Homo sapiens: one gene and its partners. The protein of the gene in region 6 purifies or fractionates together with the protein of the main gene of each other region. This does not show direct contact. Each region holds a gene or a part of one and is shown on either strand. Other genes may lie near its edges. The genes, in order: NCAN, FPR2, SLC15A1, OSBPL11, OAS1, NCAM1 and SRPRB.

Region 1 (3,500 bases), on a different chromosome or scaffold from region 6:
TTACAAGTTGGTAGTTGGGAGCACTGGTCCAGGGTCTGGCTTTGACCTCTACCCTGCTGTGCAGCCTGAGGCAAACCTCTAGCCCTCTCTGGTCCCTGAGGCATCGTGTTAGCAGGCAGGAGGCAGGGGTGGACTAGGTGGGCTTTGCCGCTGCGTTGCCGCCTCAGAGTTCAGCACCACGGACAGGTCCCAGGCCGGCCTCCCAGCAGGGGACTCTGGGAGCTGGGAAGGAGAACTGGGGAAAGGGACAGCTGTCACATACAGCCTCCCCTTCTGGACTCCGTTCACACCCCTTCCTCAGGGATAATTTCTTATGGGGGCGGGGAGCAAGGATTGGGTTTGCAGATGATGTTCTAATTTTCCATCTGCGCCCACCTCCTGAGCCCTGGTGACCGGGGTTCGCAGGAGTGGGAGGTTTTGGGGAGGGACCACCTCCCCAGGATTCCTAGTCTCTGGAACAATGTGAAGTCAGGAAATGCACTGCTGTGTCCCAACGACTGGCATGGGCTTTGCTCACAGTAGGCGCTTAATAATTGTCCACTTTATCCCTATGGGTCCTAGCCCCTATAGGGAAATGGACCCACAACTGAAGTTTCTCTGTGGGCCTAAGAAGTATCTTTGTTGAGCTGTGTGAAGTCAGGAGGAGGATGGGTGGGCAGGGGTGAGCCCCTTCCTCCAGCTGGGAGTTGGCGGCTCCTCCAAAATCCCAGAAACCAAGAATAGAATCTTGGTGACAACCAAATCCTGGAATTGAAGCTGCGAATCGTGTCAGCCAGCAAACCCAGATTAAAGGATGGCTTAGAGGCCAGCCTGCTGCCTGGACTGAGGATGCTGGGAGGACTGGGACAGACTGCTGCCCTCTAGGAGCCGCCAGTCTGATGGAGGAGGCTGACTTGAAAAATGGTATTTCAGTCTTGGCTGTGTTAAGGTCGGTAATAATAATAGCAGCAGCTAAAATGTACCCCTTACTGCATGAGACAGTTCTAAGCATTTTATATGTATTGACTCATCCATTCCTTTCAACTACCTGATGTTATCCCCATCTGACCCACAAAGAAAGTAAGGCACAGAGAAGGTAAGCAACTTGCCCAAGATCACACAAAAGGAACAGTGAGCCAATTCCAGATTTGATTCACTACCAGCACCCAGGCTTCTGACCACAGACTTCATTGCTTGGATTGTTTTTTGTTGTTGTGTTGTGTTTTGTTTTGTTTTCAGTCTCGCGCTGTCACCCAGGCTGGAGTGTGGTGGTGGAATCATAGCTCACTGCAGCCTTGAACTCCTGGGCTCAAGCAATCCTCCCACCTCAGCCTCCTGCATAGCTGGGACCACAGGTGTGCGCCACCAAGCCCAGATAATTTTTTTTTTTTTTGAGACAGAGTCTCACCCTGTCGCCCAGGCTGGAGTGCAGTGGCGTGATCTCGGCTCACTGCAACCTCCACCTCCCGGGTTCAAGTAATTCTCCTGCCTCAGCCTCCTGAGTAGCTGGGATTACAGGCGCCTGCCACCACGCCCAGCTAATTTTTGTATTTTTAGTAGAGACGGGGTTTCACCATGTTGGTAAGGCTGGTCTCGAACCCCTGACCTCGTGATCCACCCTCCTCGGCCTCCCAAAGTGCTAGGATTACAGGCGTGAGCCACCACGCCTGGCTGCTAATTTTTTAAATAGAGGTAAGATCTCACTATGTTGCCCAGGCTGGTCTCAAGCTTCTGGCCTCAAGCAGTCCTCCCACCTCAGCCTCCCAAAGTGCTGGAACTATAGGCGTGAGCCACCGCGTCCAGCCACTGCTATTCTGAGGTCAAGTGGCCCTGGGTTCGAATTCTGGCTCAGCCCTTTGCTGGCTCCTTCTGTGACCTAGAATAACACACTGGTCTCTCTGAGCCCTGGTTTCCTGATCTGTAGAGTGGGGGAGTTTGGTCCTGCAATGCTGAATATCTGGGAGGGTTGGGCTGTGGCTCACCCCTCCCTCCCTCTCCATTTTGTTCCAGATCCAGGATGGGGGCCCCGTTTGTCTGGGCCTTGGGCCTTTTGATGCTGCAGATGCTGCTCTTTGTGGCTGGGGAACAGGGTGAGTTGGTTTGTGGGGAGGGAGAGATTGGGGTCTAGGGGATGGACAAGATGGGGCAGCTTTTGAATTCCAGAGCCTTCTCCTGCTGGTCTCCTGGCATGGGCTAGAGAATAAAATGAGAATAGATTTTAAAAGGTCTTTGAACAGTCAAAAGCGAACAGGATACCTAAGAGGTTATTTTTAGTCATTGTCAGCAGAAGCTGGAGATTCCCGCCTCTCATCGTTTTGCTCAGATGAACTGGAGAGAAAGAAAGAAAGAAATGAGAATAGTGCAGAGATTGATTAGTGATGTCTGCCAAGGGTGGAGCGATGGAAATAAAGGTCTGTGTCCCTCTACTGGTGGTCAAGAGCCCAGGTTTTAGAAATCCCTCACAGATTTGGTCTGTGACCTTAGGCAAGTATAATTATCTCTCTGAACTTCAGTTTCCTCAACTCCCCCCAAAGAGAATGAGACATTGCTACTCTGCAGATGGTTATGAAAATCAAATGAGCTGATTGCTATAAAGTGCCTGTTACAAAGATGGTACTCTGCAAACACCATTTCCTTTTCATTAGCTGTCTTTTGCTTTACCTTTCGGAAAAACTGGGGCTCAGGGAAGGAAAATGCCTCTCCCAGGGCCATACAGTGAATCAGTGGCACTGGAGTGAAATCCCTGTCCTTATAAAAATAAAGTGAGGGGCTAGGCACAGTGGTTTATGCCTATAATTCTAGCACTTTGGGAGGCTGAGGCAGGCAGATCACTTGAGGTCAGGGGTTCCAGGCTAGCCTGCCTAACATGGTGAAACTCCGTCTCTACAGAAAATACAAAAATTAGCCAGGTGTGGTGGCACATGCCTGTAATCCCATCTTCTCGGGAGGCTGAGGCATGAGAATCGCTTGAACCTGGGAGGCGAAGGTTGCAGTGAGCCGAGATCATGCCACTCCACTCCAGCCTGGGTGACAGAGTCAGACTCAAAAAAATAATAATAAGGCTGGGTGTAGTGGCTCACCCCTATAATCCCAGAACTGTGGGAGGCCAAGGTAGGTGGATCAGTTGAGGTCAGGAATTGGAGACCAGCCTGGCCAACATGGTGAAACCCATCTCTACTAAAAATGCAAAAATTAGCCAGGCGTGGTGGCACACACCTGTAATCCCAGCTACTGGGGAGGCTGAGGCAGGAGAATTGCTTGAACTTAGGAGGCAGAGGTTGCAGTGAGCTGAGATCATGCCACTGCACTCCAGCCTGGGAGATGGAGCGAGACTCCATCTCAAAAGTATAAATAAATAAAAGAATAATAATAATAAGGGGCTGGGCACAGTGGCTCATACCTATAATCCCAGCACTTTCGGGAGGCTGAGGTGGGAGGATTGCTTGAGTCTAGGAGCTTGAGGCTGCAGTGAATCATGATCATGTCACTGCATTCTACCCTGGGCGATAGAGTGAGACTCA
Region 2 (3,426 bases), on a different chromosome or scaffold from region 6:
TTCAAGCAGAGAAGAATGGGGAACCGTTGCTGGGTGGGCAACCAGCAATATCTGTCAAGCGTAAGGGTTTAGAAGTCAGACCATGCCAAACTGAAGTCCTGAATCTATTATCTACTACCTAAGTGACCTTCAACACATTTCACAATTGCCCTGAGCTTTCATTTATTCTAATGAAAACTAGAAGTAATGAATATTACATAGCTATTACATAGGCCAAACCGGATCCCATATGTAGTAATTAACACAATGCATAGTCTCTAATAAGAACTTCACAAGTATTAATACAACTTATTATTCTTATAGTCTTTATCCCACAGACACCAAAGCTATACAAATCGGCACTGATTATTTGCATTCCAAACAGAGAAGAGCTCCACATCAAGCAGGGACAGGGAAAAGCAGAGGGTAGAAAGCAGAGATGGAACTCTCTTTGCTGACTTCCTCTAGTGCAGAATCCTCAGGATATAACATACTACTACATGTTACCAGTGACTCCTCAAAATTCTCTTCAACAATAACCTCAAGCCAAACCCTCAAACTTTATCTTGAGTACTAGCCAAGCAATAGGTCAAGGGTTCTCACAGTTTGAGGGACAGGAGTTGGGAGACTGGAAGAACCTGGGGCTGAAAGAGATTGCAGAGCTTGCCAGCATGTTTGCATTGAATGGTGGGAGACACAGATGTGAGCCTTCTGATTCTGAGTCATGTGCCTTCCTCACAATGCTGAGGCTGCCTATGCTCAATTTTCCATTGTCCATACAACATAAGTTCAGTATGAGCCTTGTAATCCTCTTGGTGAAGTGATCAGCCCGATAAGCGAAATGCATATTGATAATGATGGGAATATGGAGGACTATCCCTTCCCAAAGGAGCATCCAAGAGAATGCCAATTCTATAGCACCGTTGTCAACAAGGCTTGGTAGATAGAGTGGGTCTCCTGGTAGGAGTGGGAGCTTTAGTGGAAGTTGATGTGAGCTATAAATACAGATGCTGTAAGATGGTTCCACAGCTGAGAAATGGCCATTGTTGGAATGTTTCAGGTGCTGCTGGCAAGATGGAAACCAACTTCTCCACTCCTCTGAATGAATATGAAGAAGTGTCCTATGAGTCTGCTGGCTACACTGTTCTGCGGATCCTCCCATTGGTGGTGCTTGGGGTCACCTTTGTCCTCGGGGTCCTGGGCAATGGGCTTGTGATCTGGGTGGCTGGATTCCGGATGACACGCACAGTCACCACCATCTGTTACCTGAACCTGGCCCTGGCTGACTTTTCTTTCACGGCCACATTACCATTCCTCATTGTCTCCATGGCCATGGGAGAAAAATGGCCTTTTGGCTGGTTCCTGTGTAAGTTAATTCACATCGTGGTGGACATCAACCTCTTTGGAAGTGTCTTCTTGATTGGTTTCATTGCACTGGACCGCTGCATTTGTGTCCTGCATCCAGTCTGGGCCCAGAACCACCGCACTGTGAGTCTGGCCATGAAGGTGATCGTCGGACCTTGGATTCTTGCTCTAGTCCTTACCTTGCCAGTTTTCCTCTTTTTGACTACAGTAACTATTCCAAATGGGGACACATACTGTACTTTCAACTTTGCATCCTGGGGTGGCACCCCTGAGGAGAGGCTGAAGGTGGCCATTACCATGCTGACAGCCAGAGGGATTATCCGGTTTGTCATTGGCTTTAGCTTGCCGATGTCCATTGTTGCCATCTGCTATGGGCTCATTGCAGCCAAGATCCACAAAAAGGGCATGATTAAATCCAGCCGTCCCTTACGGGTCCTCACTGCTGTGGTGGCTTCTTTCTTCATCTGTTGGTTTCCCTTTCAACTGGTTGCCCTTCTGGGCACCGTCTGGCTCAAAGAGATGTTGTTCTATGGCAAGTACAAAATCATTGACATCCTGGTTAACCCAACGAGCTCCCTGGCCTTCTTCAACAGCTGCCTCAACCCCATGCTTTACGTCTTTGTGGGCCAAGACTTCCGAGAGAGACTGATCCACTCCCTGCCCACCAGTCTGGAGAGGGCCCTGTCTGAGGACTCAGCCCCAACTAATGACACGGCTGCCAATTCTGCTTCACCTCCTGCAGAGACTGAGTTACAGGCAATGTGAGGATGGGGTCAGGGATATTTTGAGTTCTGTTCATCCTACCCTAATGCCAGTTCCAGCTTCATCTACCCTTGAGTCATATTGAGGCATTCAAGGATGCACAGCTCAAGTATTTATTCAGGAAAAATGCTTTTGTGTCCCTGATTTGGGGCTAAGAAATAGACAGTCAGGCTACTAAAATATTAGTGTTATTTTTTGTTTTTTGACTTCTGCCTATACCCTGGGGTAAGTGGAGTTGGGAAATACAAGAAGAGAAAGACCAGTGGGGATTTGTAAGACTTAGATGAGATAGCGCATAATAAGGGGAAGACTTTAAAGTATAAAGTAAAATGTTTGCTGTAGGTTTTTTATAGCTATTAAAAAAAATCAGATTATGGAAGTTTTCTTCTATTTTTAGTTTGCTAAGAGTTTTCTGTTTCTTTTTCTTACATCATGAGTGGACTTTGCATTTTATCAAATGCATTTTCTACATGTATTAAGATGGTCATATTATTCTTCTTCTTTTATGTAAATCATTATAAATAATGTTCATTAAGTTCTGAATGTTAAACTACTCTTGAATTCCTGGAATAAACCACACTTAGTCCTGATGTACTTTAAATATTTATATCTCACAGGAGTTGGTTAGAATTTCTGTGTTTATGTTTATATACTGTTATTTCACTTTTTCTACTATCCTTGCTAAGTTTTCATAGAAAATAAGGAACAAAGAGAAACTTGTAATGGTCTCTGAAAAGGAATTGAGAAGTAATTCCTCTGATTCTGTTTTCTGGTGTTATATCTTTATTAAATATTCAGAAAAATTCACCAGTGAAGCCAACTTGGTCTTGTGTTTTCTTTCTGGGAAGATTTTTAATAACAAGTTTGTTTTCTTTAACAGTGATTAGACTCTTCTGTTTTTTGGTTTTTTGTTTTTTCCTATCTGTCAGTTTTGGTAAACTGAATTTCAAGGAGTTTGGCCATTTCATTCAAACTGTCAAACTCATCGGCATAAAATAGTATAATAACTGTTTAAAAGTTATAAAACAGCATGAAACTTGGCTGGGTGCGGTGGCTCATGCCTGTAATCCAAGCACTTTGGGAGGCCAAGAAGGGTGGATCACCTGAGGTCAGGAGTTTGAGACCAGCCTGGCCAACATGGTAAAACCCCATCTCTACTTAAAATACAAAAATTAGCTGGGCATGGTGGTGCACACCTGTAATCCCAGCTACTTAGGAGGCTGAGGCAGGAGAATTGCTTGAACCCGGGAGGTGGAGGTTGCAGTGAGCCAAGACTGTGCCATTGCACTCCAGCCTAGGGGACAAGAGTGAGACTTTGTC
Region 3 (3,500 bases), on a different chromosome or scaffold from region 6:
CTCCATCCATGTTCCTATAAAGGACATGATCTTGTTGTTTTTTTATTGCTGCGTAGTATTCCGTGGTGTATATGTACCACATTTTCTTTAGTCTATCATTGACAGGTATCTAGGTTGCTTCTATGTCTTTGCTATTGTGAATAGTGCTTCAGTGAACATATGTGTGCATGTGTCTTTATGGTAGAATGATTTATATTTTTTTGGGTATATACCCCGTAATGGGACTGCTGGGTCAAATGGTAGTTCTTGGAGGAGTTGTCACAATGCTTTTCACAATAGTTAGACTAATTTACACTCCCACCAGCAGTGTATAAGCATTCCCTTTTCTCTGCAAGGTGTTTTGATTTAATGGAAAAAAAGGAAAAACGTTTATTTCCTCAAGAACATCTCAAATGTATAAACATCTGCCATGTCCTAATAGAGCTTATAATAAAATCTTGTCACTAGGGGCAGATTGTAGAAGTTCTAAATGCCTAGTTTGAGAACTTTTAACGAGCCTTCTTATGGAAGTACATTTTGTGAATTTTCTATTTGTTAATCTGATCTCTGAACCAAAATTCCCTCTGGACATGGACCTGTTGTTCCATATCCCCACATCATACCTGGAGGACTCTAAACCCTCTCTCCAATGAGAGACCCCTTTCCGCAGCCCGGTGAGGAGCTTTGAGCAGTTTCCAGTCTAGGAACCAGGAGAGGAACTAGACCTTCCTCCTTCTTAAGCCTCTGTGGAAGACCCTGTCCCTGTGCCCCGTGGCTGTGGCACTTCCCAACGGCTGAGCCTGTGCTTTAACTGTGTTCTCATAGCTGCCCTCATCCTAAACCCCAAAAACCAGAGGGGCCGAGAGAAGAGGTGTGGCCCCCCCCACCCCGGCTGACACAGCCTCCTTTGTATCACATCCATGAGGTGAACCCAGGGTCCAGTGTCCTCCGCAATAGACTTCCAGCTTCTGAAACCAAGGGACAAAGGTACAAAAGAGTGACTCCCTGGTTCTTGGTGTTGCAACCCCGGGATGATGAGTCAACCGTGCTCGCTCAGCTGAGAATACTGCTCTTTCTCTCACTGTCCTCAAGGAAGAATGTGGAAAGGTTCCTCAGGCCTGACCCTTGTTTTTATTTCCTTATCGGCTCACCTGGGACACCTACCCACTTTCTCATCCTGCAAAGCATAGAATCAAGACGCAACTGTGTCTGAGAGCTTCTGCCTCCACCATGGGAACACACCTGGCTGGGAAGTCTTAGCTCCAAAGTTCTACACCAGGCCCCCAGTCATCAGCAGCTCCACCATGGGGAATAGAGTAGCAGTCCCATTTTCTAGGGAGGATTCCTGGTAGCTCAACTAGCCCATTGAGTAAGCCCTGTTTGTTCTTCATGGAATGGTTCAGTAACTCAAAGGGCAGTAGAAAAAAATTATTAATCAAAAAAACCCAGCCTGGCACAGTGGCTCAGGCCTGTAATCCCAGCACTTTGGGAGGCCAAGGCAGGCGGGTCACCTGAGGTAAGGAGTTTGAGACCATCCTGGCCAACGTGGTGAAACCCCGTCTCTACTAAAAATACAAAAGTTAGCCAGGTGTGATGGTGCGCACCTGTGATCCCAGCTACTCTGGAGGCTGAGACAGGAGAATTGCTTGAACTCAGGAGGCAGAAGTTGCTGTGAGCCGAGATTGTGCCACTGCACTCCAGCCTGGTTGACAGAGCAGACTGCATCTCAAAAAACAAATGAACAAACAAAAAAACCCAAGGGAATCGAAAATGGAATAATCTTACTCAGGACATTTTGTAAGAGACGTGAAAGACCATGCAAACATTTAGCATTCCATCCAAACTGGGCAAACCTAAAGTAGGCAAACCCTCCTGCTCAGACAAACACTCCTAGTTGCTGCTTTCACTGGTCTCATAGTACCTCATTTTCCTCAACTCTAACTCGGAGTGGAAGAGTGTTGTTTACGGGCTTATGTTCCTGCCCCCTGAGGATATAATTTCTTCAGGCAGGATTATTTTTATCCTCACATGGTTAAGTAAATACCTGCATAGATATGCAATTCAGGTGCATCCTGGCCAGCCCAGCTGAACCACATTCATTTCTCACTCCTATTCATTTCTACTCTCTTTACTTCTTTGTTTTTGTCTTGTTGTTGCTTCAGACACAGTTTCTCTGTTGCCCAGGCTGGAGCACAGTGGAGCAATCTTAGCTCACTGCAACCTCCACCTCCTGGGCTCAAGTGATCCTCTGGCCTCAGCCTCCCGAGTAGCTGGGACTAGAGGTGCGCACCGCCATGCCCAGCTAATATTTTTGTATTTTTTTTGTGGAGACGGGGTTTTGCCATGTTGCGCAGACTGATTTCAAACTCCTGAGCTCAAATGATCCGCCTGTCTCAGCCTCTCCAAACGCTGAGATTACAGGCGTAAGCCGCAGTGCCCAGCTATCCCTACGTTAAGACGGCACCGGCAGACTAATTCTCAAGTTCTACCTGCTAATTTACCCAATGCTTCATCATCACGGACATGTACCCACATGGACAAGCCAGGGCCCAGACTGTACTAGACCTTCCCACAGCCTAATTTTAGGGCACAGTGGCAACATGTTCACATGGGCAGGGGTCAAAAAAAAGAACCCAGGGGATCTTTAGAGTCGTGGTTCTCAAAGCGTGGGCCTGGGAGCAGCAGCATCACACCACGTGGGAACGTGGTCAAATGTCAGTGCATGAGCTCTACCCTGCACCTGAGACTCTAGGCAAGAGGCCCAGCGAGCCCCACTGCTGGAACAAGCCCTCACTCAGATAAGCCTGATGCATGTTCAAGTTTGAAAAACGCTGACTTAGAGCAATATTAGCCCAAAAGAACCCAATGTTAGAAGTTCTCTTTTCTTGCTGCTGGCTAGGAGGAGGTGAGTTCCCCCGAAGGTCATATGCCAAAGGCTTCCTTCAGTGTGGGACCACCTCTATAGCTTGCAGCAGGGACACCAGCTGCCCTGGTACTTCAATATTGTTCTTCGGTTGACTCAAGAGTTGACAGGAGGAGGAGAGAATGTGGAGGGACGCACCAGGTGTGAGGGACCTTCACAGCCCATCCATCATTTTAAGCTCAGGCAGCTGACTTGGAAAAACCTATCAGAATCACAAACAAGGCCAGCCAGGAGGCTGAGATCTGGTGGGGCAGGAAGAGAATAAAGTATCCTACTTTAAGTGAGTGAGTATCTCCAATCAACCTGGAGGTCTTGGCAGATAGAGGCAGGTGCTTGCTGCATTGAACCTGAAGCCTTGTACCTAATTTTCAGAGTCCATTTAGCATAGTCTTGCTAAGCTTTGGATAAGGGAGTGAGGTGGGGTGGGAGGAAAGAGATCAAATAGTCAAAACCTTCAGCAAAAGCACCCCCAGCCCTATGATCCTACGAAGGCTTCGGAGGCTGCTTTTTCTTACTGACGCTTCTTCCCAGCATATAAGAAGTTTTCTGCTATTCAGAGACTGAATTCAACCTGACAGCCCTTGGGAAAAGAACATCT
Region 4 (3,500 bases), on a different chromosome or scaffold from region 6:
TCCTAAAAAGGCTCAGGAGCTGATCGCACTAGGTACCTCTGGATCTGGGGATTCACAGAAATGATAAAATAAAAATAACTGAGTAAAATCTGTATGGAAAGCAATTAGATGCCTAACTCAAACCCCCAACTCCACACTGTTAGTAACTACCCTCTTGGACCTCAAAGTCTAGAGGTTTAGCCTCTGGATAAACAAGGTGGTCTATTCTCTAGACTGGAGAATAGCAAGGAATTCTAAGAGAGTGGATACCAAGTGATACATAACAAGGGCATTTAATAACTCCATATAAACTAAACGTTAGCTATTAACACCCTCTCTCATGCAGCCTTCTTCTCCTTTTTAACTCCTTTTGGAGTCACCAAGTATGAGATGAAAAAATTTTTCTTCTGGGAAATTTGACTAAACCTAGAAGAAAAACCTAATGATACTGACACCAAGTCTCCCAACAAATGGCCCATCCAGATTATGGGACAATGAAAAACATAGGCGCCACCTACGTGTTAAAGCTTAAAATCAGATTTTAGTTTCCCTAAACTTAATTGTGAGCAGAAGATCTGATTTCTGAGAAAACCTCTAACTAGGAATATAAAGAACAAAATAAAGAAACAGATTTGGAGGAAACAGAAACCTCAAAGGAGGGGAAAAAACAAAAATAAAAAATAATATCTTCAGAGAATTAAGAAGATATTATATACATACAAGAATGCTTTTTAAAAAAATCAGAAAATTTAAAAACATGACAATAATTAAAAGTCAAAAGAAGAGTTAAAAGATAAAAGGCGAGGAAATCTCCCATAACACAGAAGACAGACAAAGAGAGAAAAAGAAAAGTATGAGAGAACAATAAAAGACCAGACCAGGAAGTTCAATGGCCATATAATAAGGATTTCAGAGAAAACAAACAAACAAACAAACAAAATAGAAGAAAGAAAAATCATTGTGATGGTTAATATTGAGTGTCAACTTGATTGGATTGAAGGATACAAAGTACTGTTCTTGGGTGCGTCTGAGGGTGTTGCCAAAGGGGATTAACATTTGAGTCAGTGGATTGGGAGAGGCAGACCTACCCTCAATCTGTGTGGGCACCATCTAATCAGCTGCTAGGATAAAAGCTAGCAGGGGAATATGGAAGGACTAGACTTGCTGAGTCTTCTGGCCTACATCTTTCTCCCCTGCTGGATGCTTCCTGCCCTTGAACATCGGACTCCAAGTTCTTCGCTTTTGGACTCTTGGACCTTCAACCACAGACTGAAAGCTGCACTGCTGGCTTCCCTACTTTTGAGGTTTGGGGACTCGGACTGGATTCCCTGCTCCTCAGCTTGCAGATGGCCTATTATGAGACCTTACCTTGTGACTGTATGAGTCAATATTCCTTAATAAACTCCCCTTTATATATACATCTATCCTCTTATTTCTGTCCTTCTAGGAACCCTAATACAATCATCAAAGAAATAATTCAAGAAAATTTCAGAGAACTCAAAAACATGAGTTGTCACACTGAAAAGGCCCACCAAGTGCCCAGATACAATGGATAAAAGAAACCTACATCAATGTCACAATACCAAGACATGATAAAGAGAAGATTCTAAACAATTTTGGAGAGAAGAACATACAAAACAAGTCACAAACAAAAGATCAGGAATCAGAATGACTTCAGTCTTTTCATTAGAACCCTGCAGCACGGAGATATTATCTTTTTTTTTTTGAGATGGAGTCTCGCTCTGTCACCCAGGCTGGAGTGCAGTGGCGTCATCTCAGCTCACTGCAACCTCCACCTCCCAGGTTCAAGTGATTCCTGTGCCTCAGCCTCCTGAATGGCTGGGATTACAGGCATGTGCCACCATGCCTGGCTAATTTTTGTACTTTTAGTAGAGGGGATTTTGCCATGTTGGCCAGGCTGGTCTCAAACTCCTGGCCTCAAGTGATCTGCCTGCTTTGGCCTCCCAAAGTGCTGGGATTACAGGCGTGAGCCACTGCACCTGGCCACAAGTAACAAATTCTATCTAAACCAGCAATGAAACACGAGGGCAACACAGACATTTCAGACACACATTTTCACATTCGCTTCTTACAAATCTTTCTGAGAAATTAATGGAGGATATATTCCAACAAAATGAGAGGCAACCAAGAAAGAAGAAACGGATACAGTAAACGGATTAGCCAAAGAGAATGCTAAAGGAAATACTGGTCCAGATTAGAGTGATGTGACTCAAGAGACAGACATACTGAAGACTGTCATCCACATGCTTCATGCTGCCATTGTATCATCTTTTCAAACCTCAGGATAAAATAGCCTAGTGAAACTGATCCCAAGTGTATCTGTATTTGGCTTGTGTTGACTATCTGCTGGTGAAGTTCTTAGTCTCCTCTCCATGTTCTGCTGTCTGGATTGGCTGAAGATGCTCATTTCCCCGAAAGAAGCCTTCTGACTTCAATCTATTCCTCAGAGTTGGAGGTAGGTCACAGTTTGCTTTGAAACTGAAAATACTGAGCAGCTCACTCCCCCAGCCCACATTCCTCCTGTAGCTGACTCACACCAAATGCTCTGGGATGTATATTTTACAGGACTCACAACTTTGCCTTATAATTTCACAAGAAAGGGCTCTTCTAAACTTTCTCAATAACTTATAAGAAGCTAAAGCCAGAGACTCAAATGTTTAACTTGTCTTTTTCTGGGAGCTGCTTTCTACAAATGGCAACACAGTCCTTTCCTTATGCTAAGCTTATGTTAGCTATTCATTTTTTCCTAAACATCATTATGGAGTACAAAAAAGCAGTAAAACTATAGCAAAAAGTAGAGGGATAATTAACACACAAGTCAAGTAAATTGTTTTATGGAGGAAAAAGTAGAGGACTATAAATTAGAGGGGAACTCAGAGATTCCAAGTTCAGGCAGTGTTCTACAACTTAATGTCAGAGGTAGATACATGGGTATTCATTTTATCTTTTTTCTTTGAATGTTTATATGTATACCATTCAGTCTTCTGTGTGTTTAACACATTTCATACACACAAAAATTAACTGAAAAAAGGAAGTAAAACAAAATTCCATATAAACTATGACAATGTGAAGAAAGATAAAAGTGAGAGCTCTGTTATGTTAGGGTAGTAAAATGATAGATTTTCTTTAGTTTTCTAAAATTTTGTGTTTATATAATTTCATAATATTATTTAAAAAGAAACAAAATGAACAGTAGGAAAATGCATATTACTTATTCACAACATGAAGGCTAGGACCATGGTTATCTTATTTGTTCCTGTCCCAAGACCTAGCACAGTGTCTGGAATATAACAGGGGCCCAGTAAATATTTGTTAATTAAGTGTTATTGTTAGATAAGAGGTAGCTGTGACTGCAGTTTAGTCACCAGGCTCTTTATTTTTATTTATTTGTTTATTTTTTTTGAGACAGAATCTAGCTCTGTCGCCCAGGCTAGAGTGCAGTGGCGCAACCTCAGCTTACTGTAACCTCTGCCTCCTGGGTTCAAGCGGTTCTCCTGCCT
Region 5 (3,500 bases), on a different chromosome or scaffold from region 6:
TCAGTTTACTCACCTGTAAAATAATTGGCATAGTGCCTGCCTCACAGGGTTGGAGGTAGGTGTTTAAAACAGATGGCAGTAGTAAAATGCCCAGTACAATGATGGGCAACAGGAGATTCTCACTAAGTGGGGAGCCCTCCCACCTCCTCCATTTCCAAGGCACTGTACCTGTATCCAGGTGTTCATTTACATAGGGGAGCTAAGCCATGTGGGGATAGCATACCTGGGTTTCGTGAGCTGCCTTCTCAGGTACTTTTCAATAATGGGGTTTTTAAAGTCATAATACTTTGTCCAGTAGATGCAGAGTTGCTGGTAGTTTATGACTAATTCCAAGACCGTCCGAAATCCCTGGGCTGTGTTGAAATGTGTTTTCATGCTCCCTCGCTCCCAAGCATAGACCGTCAGGAGCTCCAGGGCATACTGAGGTGGCAGCTTCCCAAGCTTCTTCTTACACTGAGAAGAGGAAAAACAATCAGAAAAAAATTGGTTTGCTCAACTTTTGTGTAAACTACACTTCTCATGGGCCAAATCCAGCCTGCCACCTGTTTTTATAAAGTTTCCTTGGAACGAATCCAGGCTCATTCATTTATGTATAGTTTATGACTGCATTCATGCTACAAAGGCAGGGTTGAGTAGTTGCAACAGAGGCTGTGCAGTCCACAAAGTCTAAAATATTTACTATCTAGCCTTTTATTTTTTAAAAAAGTGTACTGGCCCCTTGTTAAGAGCGCTGGATTCTTATTGATGTGGGTTTGAATCCTGGCTTCACCATTGTCCAATTCTAAGTAGATGACTTAGACTCTCAGAGCCTCATGATTTTCATCTGCTAAGTGAGTGGTTGTAATAGCACCTATCTGATAAAGATACTACGAAAATTAACTGAGAAGAAGGACTTGTAATGTTCCTAAGAAATGCACAGAAGCAAATGAAATTCTTTCTGGAGGAATATACATAATCCAAAACCTCAAATTATTTCACACATAATTTTCAAATACAATGACCAGCACATATGTAACCAGGCACACAAGGAAACAAAACACTAAGAGTTATGACCAACAGAAAGAAGAGAAATAGTAATAAACCTACAAACTTTAAATGCTGAAAGACCGAACACAGACTTTAAAATAACTAGGAACTCTACAAGGAAAACTACAAAACATTGCTGAAAGAAAATCATAGATGACACAAACAAATGGAAACACATCCCATGCTCATGAATGGGTAGAATCAATATTGTGAAAATGACCATACTCCCAAAAACAATCTACAAATTCAATGCAATTCCCATCAAAATACCACCATCATTCTTCACAGAACTAGAAAAAACAATCCTAAAATTCATATGGCACCAAAAAAGAGCTCACATAGCCAAAGCAAGACTAAGTAAAAAGAACAAATCTGGAGGCATTACATTATCAGACTTCAAACTATACTGTAAGGCCATAGTCACCAAAACAACATGGTACTGGTATAAAAATAGTCACGTAGACAAATGGAACAGAATAGATAACCCAGAAATAAAGCCAAACACTTACAGCCAACTGATCTTTGACAAACCAAACAAAAACATAAAATGGGGAAAGGACACCCTATTCAACAAATGGTCCTAGGATAATTGGCAAGTTGCATGTAGAAGAATGAAACTGAATCCTTCTCTCTCCCCTTATACAAAATTCAACTCAAAATCGATCAAATACTTAAATCTAAGACCTGAAACCATAAAGATTCTAGAAGATAATATTGGAAAAACCCTCCTACACATTGGCTTAGGCAAAGACTTCATGACCAAGAACCCAAAAGCAAATGCAACAAAAACAAAGATAAATAGATGGGACTTAATTAAACTAAAAAGCTTCTGCAAAGCAAAAGAAATAATTAGCAGAGTTAACAGACAACCCACAGAATGGGAGAAAATCTTCACAATCTATACATCCAACTAATATCCAGAATCTACAAAGAACTCAAACGAATCAGCAAGAAAAAAAAAATCTCATCAAAAAGTGGGCTAAGGACATGAACAGAGAATTCTCAAATGAAGATATACAAATACCAACAAGCGGGGTGGGGGGAATTGGGGAGGGATAGCATTAGGAGATATACCTAATGCTAAATGACGGGTTAATGGGTGCAGCACACCAGCATGGCACATGTATACATATGTAACTAACCTGCACATTGTGCACATGTACCCTAAAACTTAAAGTATAATAATGAAAAAAAAAAAAAAAAAACAAATACCAACAAGCATATGGAAAAATGCTCAACATCCCTAATTATCAGGGAAATGCAAATCAAAACCACAATGTGATACCACCTCACTCCTGCAAGAATGGTCATAATAAAAAATCAAACAATAATAGATGTTGGTGTGGATGTGGTGAAAAGGGAACACTTTTACACCATTGGTGGGAATGTAAACTCATACAACCACTATGGAAAACAGTGTGGAGATTCCTTATAGAACTAAAAGTAGATCTACCATTTGATCCAGCAATCCCACTACTAGGTATCTACCCAGAGGAAAAGAAGTCATTATACAAAAAAGATACTTGCACACACATGTTTATAACAGCACAATTTGCAATTGCAAAAATATGGAACCAGCCCAAATGCCCATCAATCAATGAGTGGATAAAGAAAAATGTTATACACACACAAACACACCATGGAATACTACTCAACCATAAAAAGGAACAAAATAATGGCATTCACAGCAACCTGGATGGAATTGGATACTATTATTTTAATTAAATAACTCAGGAATGGAAAACCAAACATTGTATGTTCTCACTCATATGTGGGAGCTAAGCTATGAGGAAGCAAAGGCATAAGAATGATACATGGGACTTTGCGGACTGCGGGGAAAGGGTGGGGTGTGGCAAGGGTTAAAAGATTACACATTGGGTACAATGTACACTGTTTGGGTGATGGGTGCACCAAAATCACCACTAAAGAACTTATTCATGTAACCAAACACCACCTGTTCCCCCAAAAACCTATTGAAATAGAAAAATTAAAAATAAAAAAAAATAGTCCTCTCTCTGTGATCAGTGGTTTGAATGAGGACAGGAAAGGAGAGGTATCAGAGCCATATATGTATACACATGAATCTGTGTGTGCTCATGTCACAGAAAAGAAGTGTAAATAAAACATAAGATTAACAAATAATAAAAATTAAAAATAAAATAACTAGGAATATCATATTCACAGGATAAAATAAGAACTTTAAATAGTTAGCAGGGAATTAAAAGCCATAAGAAGTACCATGGCAGATACAAAAATATGAAATAGAAATTTTAGGATAAAAATGGCAACTGTAATTAATTACAGCAAATTAGATATAGCTAAAGAGAAAATTAGTTAATTGGAAGGTAGATTAGAAGGAACTATTCAGAATAAAGCATGGAAAAATAGACAAAAGGATGAAAAACACAGAAGAGAGTATAGAGATATGAAAGATAGAGCAGGGTCTAACATACATTTAATTGGAATTCTAGAAG
Region 6 (3,500 bases):
ATTTTCCTTAAAGAAGGCCCTCAAAATTATATACCCTTCAGGCCCAACAAGACCTAGATCCACCCTTGTGCTGATGGTTTTCAACCTTATAATCAGGCCATTTTTTTCTCTGAAGTATTCACAACCAACATGGAATTGCAGGCATATTTAGTGACCAATTTTTTAAGCCTAGTTCTAATCTCTGAAGGAGTCCTGTGTATCATAATACCCTTTTTAAAATCCTTCTAAAAAGAGGGCACTATGTCTAAATAATTATTTTTTCCAGATCCATATATATCCTTCTTGCTCACTAATGAACACTGCCTACATGCACTGAAGTCCTAAGATCTCTAAAATATTTATAACTCTAACAAGTAGGCATTACTAATTTTCCGATCTCACGGAAGAGGAAACTGAAACTTGAAGGAGTTAAATCATTTGTCTGAGATCAGACAGCTAGTAAGGGATATGTCTGGGGTTTCAACCCAGGGTTATCTACCTCTCTTAATCTCTAGTCTCTACTACTCCCAAGGTTCCCTGACAGCAGAAATTATGTCATCTCACTCCTTTTAATTCCCCACAGAGCAGATGATAAAAAGCTGGCACTCAATAAACATATTTGATCAACTATTTAAGAGAATACCTAATGTAACACAATCTCAAACAGTGTGACATTACTATGAATATTCTTAAATGATGAGGTAATCAGATACCAAAGGAGGTGATTAATGTACAACAAAAGGCATTTTACACCTTATCTCAGGAATGACGCCAAATAGAAAACGGAAGATCAGCTGTTACCCATGTTTGCAGCTACAAATCAAAAAGTCCTCAGAGTACGAAGTGGAATATAGGTTACATAGAAGCCTTTTAAATCATATCAGCCATGCAATCTTTGAATTCAAGAAAGTGTTACGTATATATGGAAGAAAATAGAATGCATAATGGGTTTATTACAATCTGTTTTTCAAAAGCACACATACACAAGATACACCAAATAGCTTATCCTTTTAGTGCAGTCCTCTTGGAGTCTCCAATTGCTTAGAAGCTAAATTAATACTGCAGGAAAGGAAAAGTGTGTCTACCCAACTGAAAATCCGTTAACTCAGTGGCTGCATGTAGACATGGCCTGAGCATGTTTTAAATGTAACGTATTGAAACTGCCTGAAAGGCCGCCATTTGGCACCCAGGCCAACATCAAAAAGCAATGCTCCTAATGAGCATCTGCAGCTGAGAGACAGTATTTCAACAACATGAAATGAAAAGGCATAATGGCACCACTGCCAACGCCAAATAATTTACATCCCTTTACATCAGCAAATGGTTTTAAGGTTTGGCCCCAAGAGTTAATAACAAAAGAGGCTAGAGGTAACAGGACTATGACCTTCAGATTGACTTCTGTATTCTATTACCCTACAGTAAGTAGTAAGCATATCTACCTGTATTGTTAAAAATAGTTTCACTACAATGTTTTCGAATAGTGAAAACTCTGGAGCTCATAGAAACCTAATCATTAGGATTCAGAGGTCCTTGGACATTTCCTCCTTCCTAAAAGACCATCTCTTACAGCATTGCTCAGAGTCACTGAGTATATTATGAAAAGTAAAAAATTTTCTTCTTCGAATTTTACTTAGAATTCTTTCTTTTTAACCAAAGGAATTTTCACCTTAGTGACTTTTATTAAAAGCTCAAATGACTTCATTTTATACAGCCACGTGATTAATGTTTTCAATTTTGTGTAATTTGTAACCCAGTTTTAAGATCAGTAAAATGCTCCCTGTAATGTGCTGCCATTTCTTTTAAAGTTCCAGACATTCCTTAGTCTATATGTTATAACTGCTAAACTGAAAAATGATCAATTATGGAATTTACATTAAAATATTTATCTTGACACCAGAAAACATGTGTGTGCTCAAAAAAGCAATGCTGAACTGGTGCAGGAGAGCCTTTATAAGATGTCTTTGTCTCCTCCTAGTCTATGATTCTTCCCGCAGACTGACGGGGGCAGGTGCGATCCCTTCTCTCCCTGGCCTGCCAATTGGTTCTGCTCTCCATCACAAGCTCAAGATCCTAAAAGTGCAACCCGTTCTTTAGCAACAGGTACTCAATCACTTATTTTACACTAAGTCAGAAAGGACTGTCTGTAAAATGTCTTTGGAAGCCTGCCAGTAGTATTGAAGCCACTTTCAGTCTGGAGAGCAGCCACAGTTCTTTAATACTAAAGACAAAATTATGAGAAATTTATCAAACTCATACTTAACAGAGGCTTCATCACCTTGAAAAATTAAGTGGTTGCATCAGAAATTCCAGAGTCCATTATTTAAGCAGTGTAAATTTTACAAAATGCTCTCTATAATTTGAGAAACTGGGTTCTGTAGTGAACAAAAACATGTCTAAAGATTAGCTTTTGAGTGACAAAATGGTGCTGTTTACTTTGAAAGGCAATTAAGACATTGTTCCTTGTGACAGAAAAATACAGATATAGGTTACTTCCATTAAATTACATATTACCTATCTGAGGAATTCAATTAATGATAAATGGATTCCAAACAGAAGCACTGTTCAAAACTTGGAATTTGGGGGTGCTACAGACTAATTTCTCCTTCTTATTGCTGCCTTCAGTAAACACCCACATCCCTTACAAATAGCACACCCACATCATTTTTTTTTCAGTTTTGATGTGGGATTTTTTTTTCTTTGCAATTACTATCTTAATTCTTGAACTATCAAACTCAAGAAACCAGTCACCAGTTAAATCAACATATTCTTAGTTTAATCAATTATCATTGTAAGACTTAGAGGAAACTCCTTTACTAAACAAGAATATGTCCTGCTATTTTCTGGTATTCCATTTTTAAAAAAAAAATCCTAGATAAAGGTATCTGGAAGGAAGTTATCAGGTTCAACAATTTAGGGAAAGAAAGAGGGCGTTCATAAAGCATTAACTTAAGAAAACAGTTAAAGACTAATGGAAGCTTAGCTAGGTTAGCAGATCTTTAAGACCTTTATAGAGGGAATAGTAACTCAAAAACTTACATAAATCATAGCCCACACGTCTACAATGTCTGGATTATATTCCCTGTTTTTAATAACTCTGTTGGATTTAAAACAAATTATCAGTTATTAATATTTCTAAATATGCTAGTATTTATTGAAAGAAAATAATCTTTCTAGGGTTTGGTTAGAGTTGTGAAAGGTTTTCCACATTCTTATATAGCCTTTATTACATTCAGTGAAATTCTGTTTAAAAACACACATTCTCAGTCTTCAAATGAAAATCAACAAAAATATATGGCTCACTATAACTGTGCTCACAGTCAACTTTGTGGAAGCGCACCTTAATTTGCTTAGTGAGAGATATTATATATACTACTTGATTTCAATGTTAGCTTTTGTAAAGTAGCTCTTTGTTCTTAACCGATGGTATCTTGTTAGAAACCCAGTCCTATCCATTCCTTGACTCTTGCAAGTTTAACTGGCAGAAGACTGCAAAATTATCAAGTAAACATGTGACTTAACCA
Region 7 (4,146 bases), on a different chromosome or scaffold from region 6:
GAGTCAGATTCCATAATTGTTTTAAGATAATTATCCTTGGCTACAAGGATCAAATGGCAAGGATGGCATCAGTACTAGGTTGGACAGGGAGTTGCTGGGTAGCCGTCCTAACAGATGTATTTTTTTGTGTGTAAGGTTGCGATGGCCTTTGTGCAAGTCTGTGGTTTTTGCAGTCTTTTGTGACAGTTTTTGTCATCAGGCATGGGTGCCTGAGAACCCTCCCTCCATGGCCTTTCACCAGCTCCATTTTTCTGATTAAAAAAAAAAATACAAGTGACTCCATTTTGATGCTGACAACTTTTTCAATGGCAATGTGGAACTGTAATAAACTTTTTTCAATCTTTCAGTGACACTGACATCTTCATGTCTCTACTCAGCCATACAATTAAATTAAATAATGTGTACATTTTAAAACAATGACAGCTGTTTAATGACAGAGACTGTGAACTGGGACCCTCTAGGCTGGCCACTTTTGGTGTTTTATTTGGGCCACAAGTTTTTGAATGCTTTCAATTACCTACAGAAAATTTCAAAAGTGGAAAATTTCCTATAAAAATCTGCCTTTATTGCTTCTCTTGAAAACTGGAAGAACCGGCCACCCAGGTCCCATAACACCTACCTGGCTGAATAGGGTCGGCCCTACTTTCAGCAGAAATACCTCCTGCAGTTTTCAACAGCCCCAGCTCTCCTGGGCGTTGATTTTCCTAGTTGCTTCCTTTAATGCAGACATTTGAGTTTGCAGCCCTAGATTGACAGTGTAGGGGCACTGAATTACTTAGGGTTCCCACATACATCGTTTCTTACACTCATTTTCTTCTGCACAGCACCTTTTTTTCCTTTAACCACTCGCAGATGCTAACTCATTCTTCAGGACTCAATTCCAATGTCCAGAAGCTTTTCTCTGAACTCATGATGGACTCCGCGTCCCATTATGTATTCCCACATCGCTCCGTACATCCATCTGTCACATCCCTTGTCACATTAAATTCAGATTAAATGTTTGTAGGATGCTTGAGTTCTTCACAAGTCTCACGTCACTTAGCGACGGTCGGGAACTCCTCAGTGGTAGTTTCGGGAGCCATTCATTCATTTTATTCATTTCATCATTCTTTCAACAGTCATAACGTAGGTGACGACGACTGACTCATCTCTTAAAAGATGTGTGTGTCCCTCGACAAATAACCTGTCTGCCCCTATCGTTCTGTAGGAGGACGGAGTCCCAGAGAACTACAACTCCCATCAAGCACTTGGGGGATCGCCGCGGCTGAGGGAGAGACTATGGCTTAGGAACCACCATTCGCGTGAGGCTCTGCTCCCCGCGCCTGCGCAGAGTGCAGGGCCACGTCGCTTTTGCTGTACCGGGGACCACGCGTCTCATCCATGGCTTCCGCGGACTCGCGCCGGGTGGCAGATGGCGGCGGTGCCGGGGGCACCTTCCAGCCCTACCTAGACACCTTGCGGCAGGAGCTGCAGCAGACGGACCCAACGCTGTTGTCAGTAGTGGTGGCGGTTCTTGCGGTGCTGCTGACGCTAGGTAAAAGGCGGCCGGTGGTCATGGCGGGTTTGGGGCGGGCAGAGGTCCGGGCTTTGGCTGCACCGCTGCAGGCCGGGGACGCGGGGCTGAGAGGGCGCCTTGAGGGCATCAGGAGGGTGAGACCCACCCAGTCTACACCCCACCCTCTCTCCTGAAGCAGCGGCAGCAGCTGGGCGTTAAGGGGGATGCCGGGCAACCCCCGGAGTTAACGTCCTGGTCCTTGGGGCGCAGATTGCTCTTCGTCATCTGCCCTGTTACGCTTGAGCGCGCTGTTCCTCGCCTTCCGCTGTTCTCACTGCAAAGACTCAGGGTCTTGACACCAACTTTCAGCCTCCCGTGTTTGCGTGCGGGCGCTGGGATACCAAGGTAGTGAGATAGCACCTGAGTCCCAGTCAGAGTAAGGACTGCAAAGAAAAGTTGACAGTTGACAGTGCCTGGCTCTCAGTGGATCCCTAACAACAGCAATAGTAACCATTATGATAAAAGTCAGTTCCAGGTGAATGAGGTGTTTCGTCACAGACTTCTGTGAATTTCCCCACCCCAGCCATGCACATATACTGATTCCCAAGGCGTAATTTTTGTTGTTTTTCTCTGTCTATTCCACAGTCTTCTGGAAGTTAATCCGGAGCAGAAGGAGCAGTCAGAGAGCTGTTCTTCTTGTTGGCCTTTGTGATTCCGGGAAAACGTTGCTCTTTGTCAGGGTAAATGATTTCATTGACACCCCTGTTAAGCTTAATAGAAAATTTTATAGATCCCAGTATTCCTGTCATCTCACGGTTTATTTTGTAAAAGAAGCTGATGCTGTTAAATTTGGAAGTTAATTCTTGACTTACTTGGGAGAACAAAAAGACTCGTAGAAACCCATAATTGAGAAATATTGGTCATTTCTCCTTTTTTTTTTCTGTTTGCCCTTGCCAGATGCTGATATTTAGTCTTTATCACATTCAAGGATTTTATTTAATTAGTTTCATTCCAGAATAGCAGAAGGCATAGAAGCTAGTGTCCTACAGTTTATAATTCCTTCGTTAACAAATTCTTAGGACAGTTTATCGAAGACACTTTTTCACAGGGTGATCCTTCTTTGACATAGTGGGCTAGTTAGGCTTCTTTTTACTAATATTTATTTTTAATACATTTAGTATTTTTAACAGTGTATTTTAATGTGGTGAATAGGAGAGGTTTTCTGCTTTTTAACTCTTCTTTTTGAGAGTATAAATTATTTCCCTTCCATTAAAGAAATACCTCCATTTTTTTTTTTTTTTTTTTTTTGAGGGAGTGTCTCACTCCAATGCCCAGGCTGGAGTGCAGTGGCGAGATCTCTGCTCATTGCAGCCTTGACCTCTGGGACTCAGATGATTCTCCCACCTCAGCCTCCGAGTAGCTGGGACTACAGGCGTGCAACACTACGCCCGGCTGATTTTTTATATTTTTTGTAGAGATGAGATTTTGCCATGTTGCCCAGGCTTCAAATCATTTTTGTTGGTTAAAAATCTTTACAGAAGCTTGGCAAATTTGGCCACTAACTGTCTTTTGAGAATAATGTTGTTTTTATTCCACTGAGGAGTAAAATATGCAATTAATTAGATTTTTTTCTACAGGTAAAAAAAATCAATATCGTCTTTTTCACCTGTCGGAAGCAGCATTCATTTACTTAACCTTACACCTGGGAGACTTAGAATAATATAACTCAATTTAGGTGTGCTATTAAAATGTTGAATATCACCCATCTTGTTTTTTTTACAGTTGTTAACAGGCCTTTATAGAGACACTCAGACGTCCATTACTGACAGCTGTGCTGTATACAGAGTCAACAATAACAGGGTAAGATGTTTGTGGAGTTTTGGAGTCTGACAGTCTTACTTTACTGTGGTGTGTCAGTTAAGGACATTTTTAGGATGAGTTCATCTGAGGATGTAAGTACCATTTGTAGCTTATTTTTATGGAGAAACATATTCTTTGTGACAAATTCTCTTGACAATCTGTACAGTAGATTTAATCATGCCCTCCTCTGCATTGTTGTACCTTAATGTACAGTAATGTTATATCACATTTTATTCTTATTTTTTGTTTCTGTGTCTTCTTTCCAACTTTACAATGAGTTCTTAAGAGTGGGCATTAAACCTTTTAAGTTTTGAATAGGTAATACATGCACATGGGACAAAAATTCAAAAGGTTAGAAAAGATATTTGGTGAAAAGTAATTTTTCCTTTCCTTTCCCCACTACCTAGTTTTCTCCTCAGAAGCAGTGACTTACTTTTTTTTGTATGTAGTCTTCCGGATGTTCTGTGCATATACAAACATGTCTGTATATCCTTTATTGTTGTTTTTTTTTAAATGCTGTTCTGCCCATTATTTTTCTCATACGGCTGATACAACTTGGGCTTTTCTTATTGTCCTACATTTGTATACATAGTACCATCTGGTTGGTTTATGAGCTGCATAGTACTCCACTCTGTTGCTATACCATAAAATTAAATTCTTACTTAATCTGGACCGTGTTAATAGACATTTAGTTTTGTTATTATAACCTTTGCTTTTACAAACAGTGCTGCAATGGATATCTTACAGAGTATATATGAGTGTATTTCAAATATAAGGAATCATGGGGCCTG

The links.
Region 1: the proteins of NCAM1 (region 6) and NCAN purify together in Homo sapiens (affinity purification with western blotting, with the first as the bait; one study listed by BioGRID). This does not show direct contact.
Region 2: the proteins of NCAM1 (region 6) and FPR2 purify together in Homo sapiens (co-immunoprecipitation; one large-scale study listed by IntAct). This does not show direct contact.
Region 3: the proteins of NCAM1 (region 6) and SLC15A1 purify together in Homo sapiens (co-immunoprecipitation; one large-scale study listed by IntAct). This does not show direct contact.
Region 4: the proteins of NCAM1 (region 6) and OSBPL11 purify together in Homo sapiens (co-immunoprecipitation; one large-scale study listed by IntAct). This does not show direct contact.
Region 5: the proteins of NCAM1 (region 6) and OAS1 purify together in Homo sapiens (co-immunoprecipitation; one large-scale study listed by IntAct). This does not show direct contact.
Region 7: the proteins of NCAM1 (region 6) and SRPRB purify together in Homo sapiens (co-immunoprecipitation; one large-scale study listed by IntAct). This does not show direct contact.

Annotation. Positions count from the first base shown.
Region 1 is NC_000019.10:19,214,958-19,218,457, forward strand, and holds part of NCAN (neurocan core protein precursor), read left to right. Parts: intron 1-1,989; 5' UTR 1,990-1,996; coding exon 1,997-2,069; intron 2,070-3,500. UniProt on the Homo sapiens protein: May modulate neuronal adhesion and neurite growth during development by binding to neural cell adhesion molecules (NG-CAM and N-CAM). Chondroitin sulfate proteoglycan; binds to hyaluronic acid.
Region 2 is NC_000019.10:51,767,606-51,771,031, forward strand, and holds the end of FPR2 (N-formyl peptide receptor 2), read left to right. Parts: intron 1-1,039; 5' UTR 1,040-1,053; coding exon 1,054-2,109; 3' UTR 2,110-2,926; downstream 2,927-3,426. UniProt on the Homo sapiens protein: Low affinity receptor for N-formyl-methionyl peptides, which are powerful neutrophil chemotactic factors. Binding of FMLP to the receptor causes activation of neutrophils.
Region 3 is NC_000013.11:98,746,173-98,749,672, forward strand, and holds part of SLC15A1 (solute carrier family 15 member 1), read right to left. Parts: intron 1-3,500. UniProt on the Homo sapiens protein: Electrogenic proton-coupled amino-acid transporter that transports oligopeptides of 2 to 4 amino acids with a preference for dipeptides. Transports neutral and monovalently charged peptides with a proton to peptide stoichiometry of 1:1 or 2:1.
Region 4 is NC_000003.12:125,553,998-125,557,497, forward strand, and holds part of OSBPL11 (oxysterol-binding protein-related protein 11), read right to left. Parts: intron 1-3,500. UniProt on the Homo sapiens protein: Plays a role in regulating ADIPOQ and FABP4 levels in differentiating adipocytes and is also involved in regulation of adipocyte triglyceride storage. Weakly binds 25-hydroxycholesterol. Interacts with OSBPL9 to function as lipid transfer proteins.
Region 5 is NC_000012.12:112,913,462-112,916,961, reverse strand, and holds part of OAS1 (2'-5'-oligoadenylate synthase 1), read right to left. Parts: intron 454-3,500; coding exon 224-453; intron 1-223.
Region 6 is NC_000011.10:112,964,420-112,967,919, reverse strand, and holds part of NCAM1 (neural cell adhesion molecule 1 isoform 2 precursor), read right to left. Parts: intron 1-3,500.
Region 7 is NC_000003.12:133,804,469-133,808,614, forward strand, and holds the start of SRPRB (signal recognition particle receptor subunit beta), read left to right. Parts: upstream 1-1,346; 5' UTR 1,347-1,380; coding exon 1,381-1,534; intron 1,535-2,140; coding exon 2,141-2,235; intron 2,236-3,277; coding exon 3,278-3,355; intron 3,356-4,146. UniProt on the Homo sapiens protein: Component of the signal recognition particle (SRP) complex receptor (SR). Ensures, in conjunction with the SRP complex, the correct targeting of the nascent secretory proteins to the endoplasmic reticulum membrane system.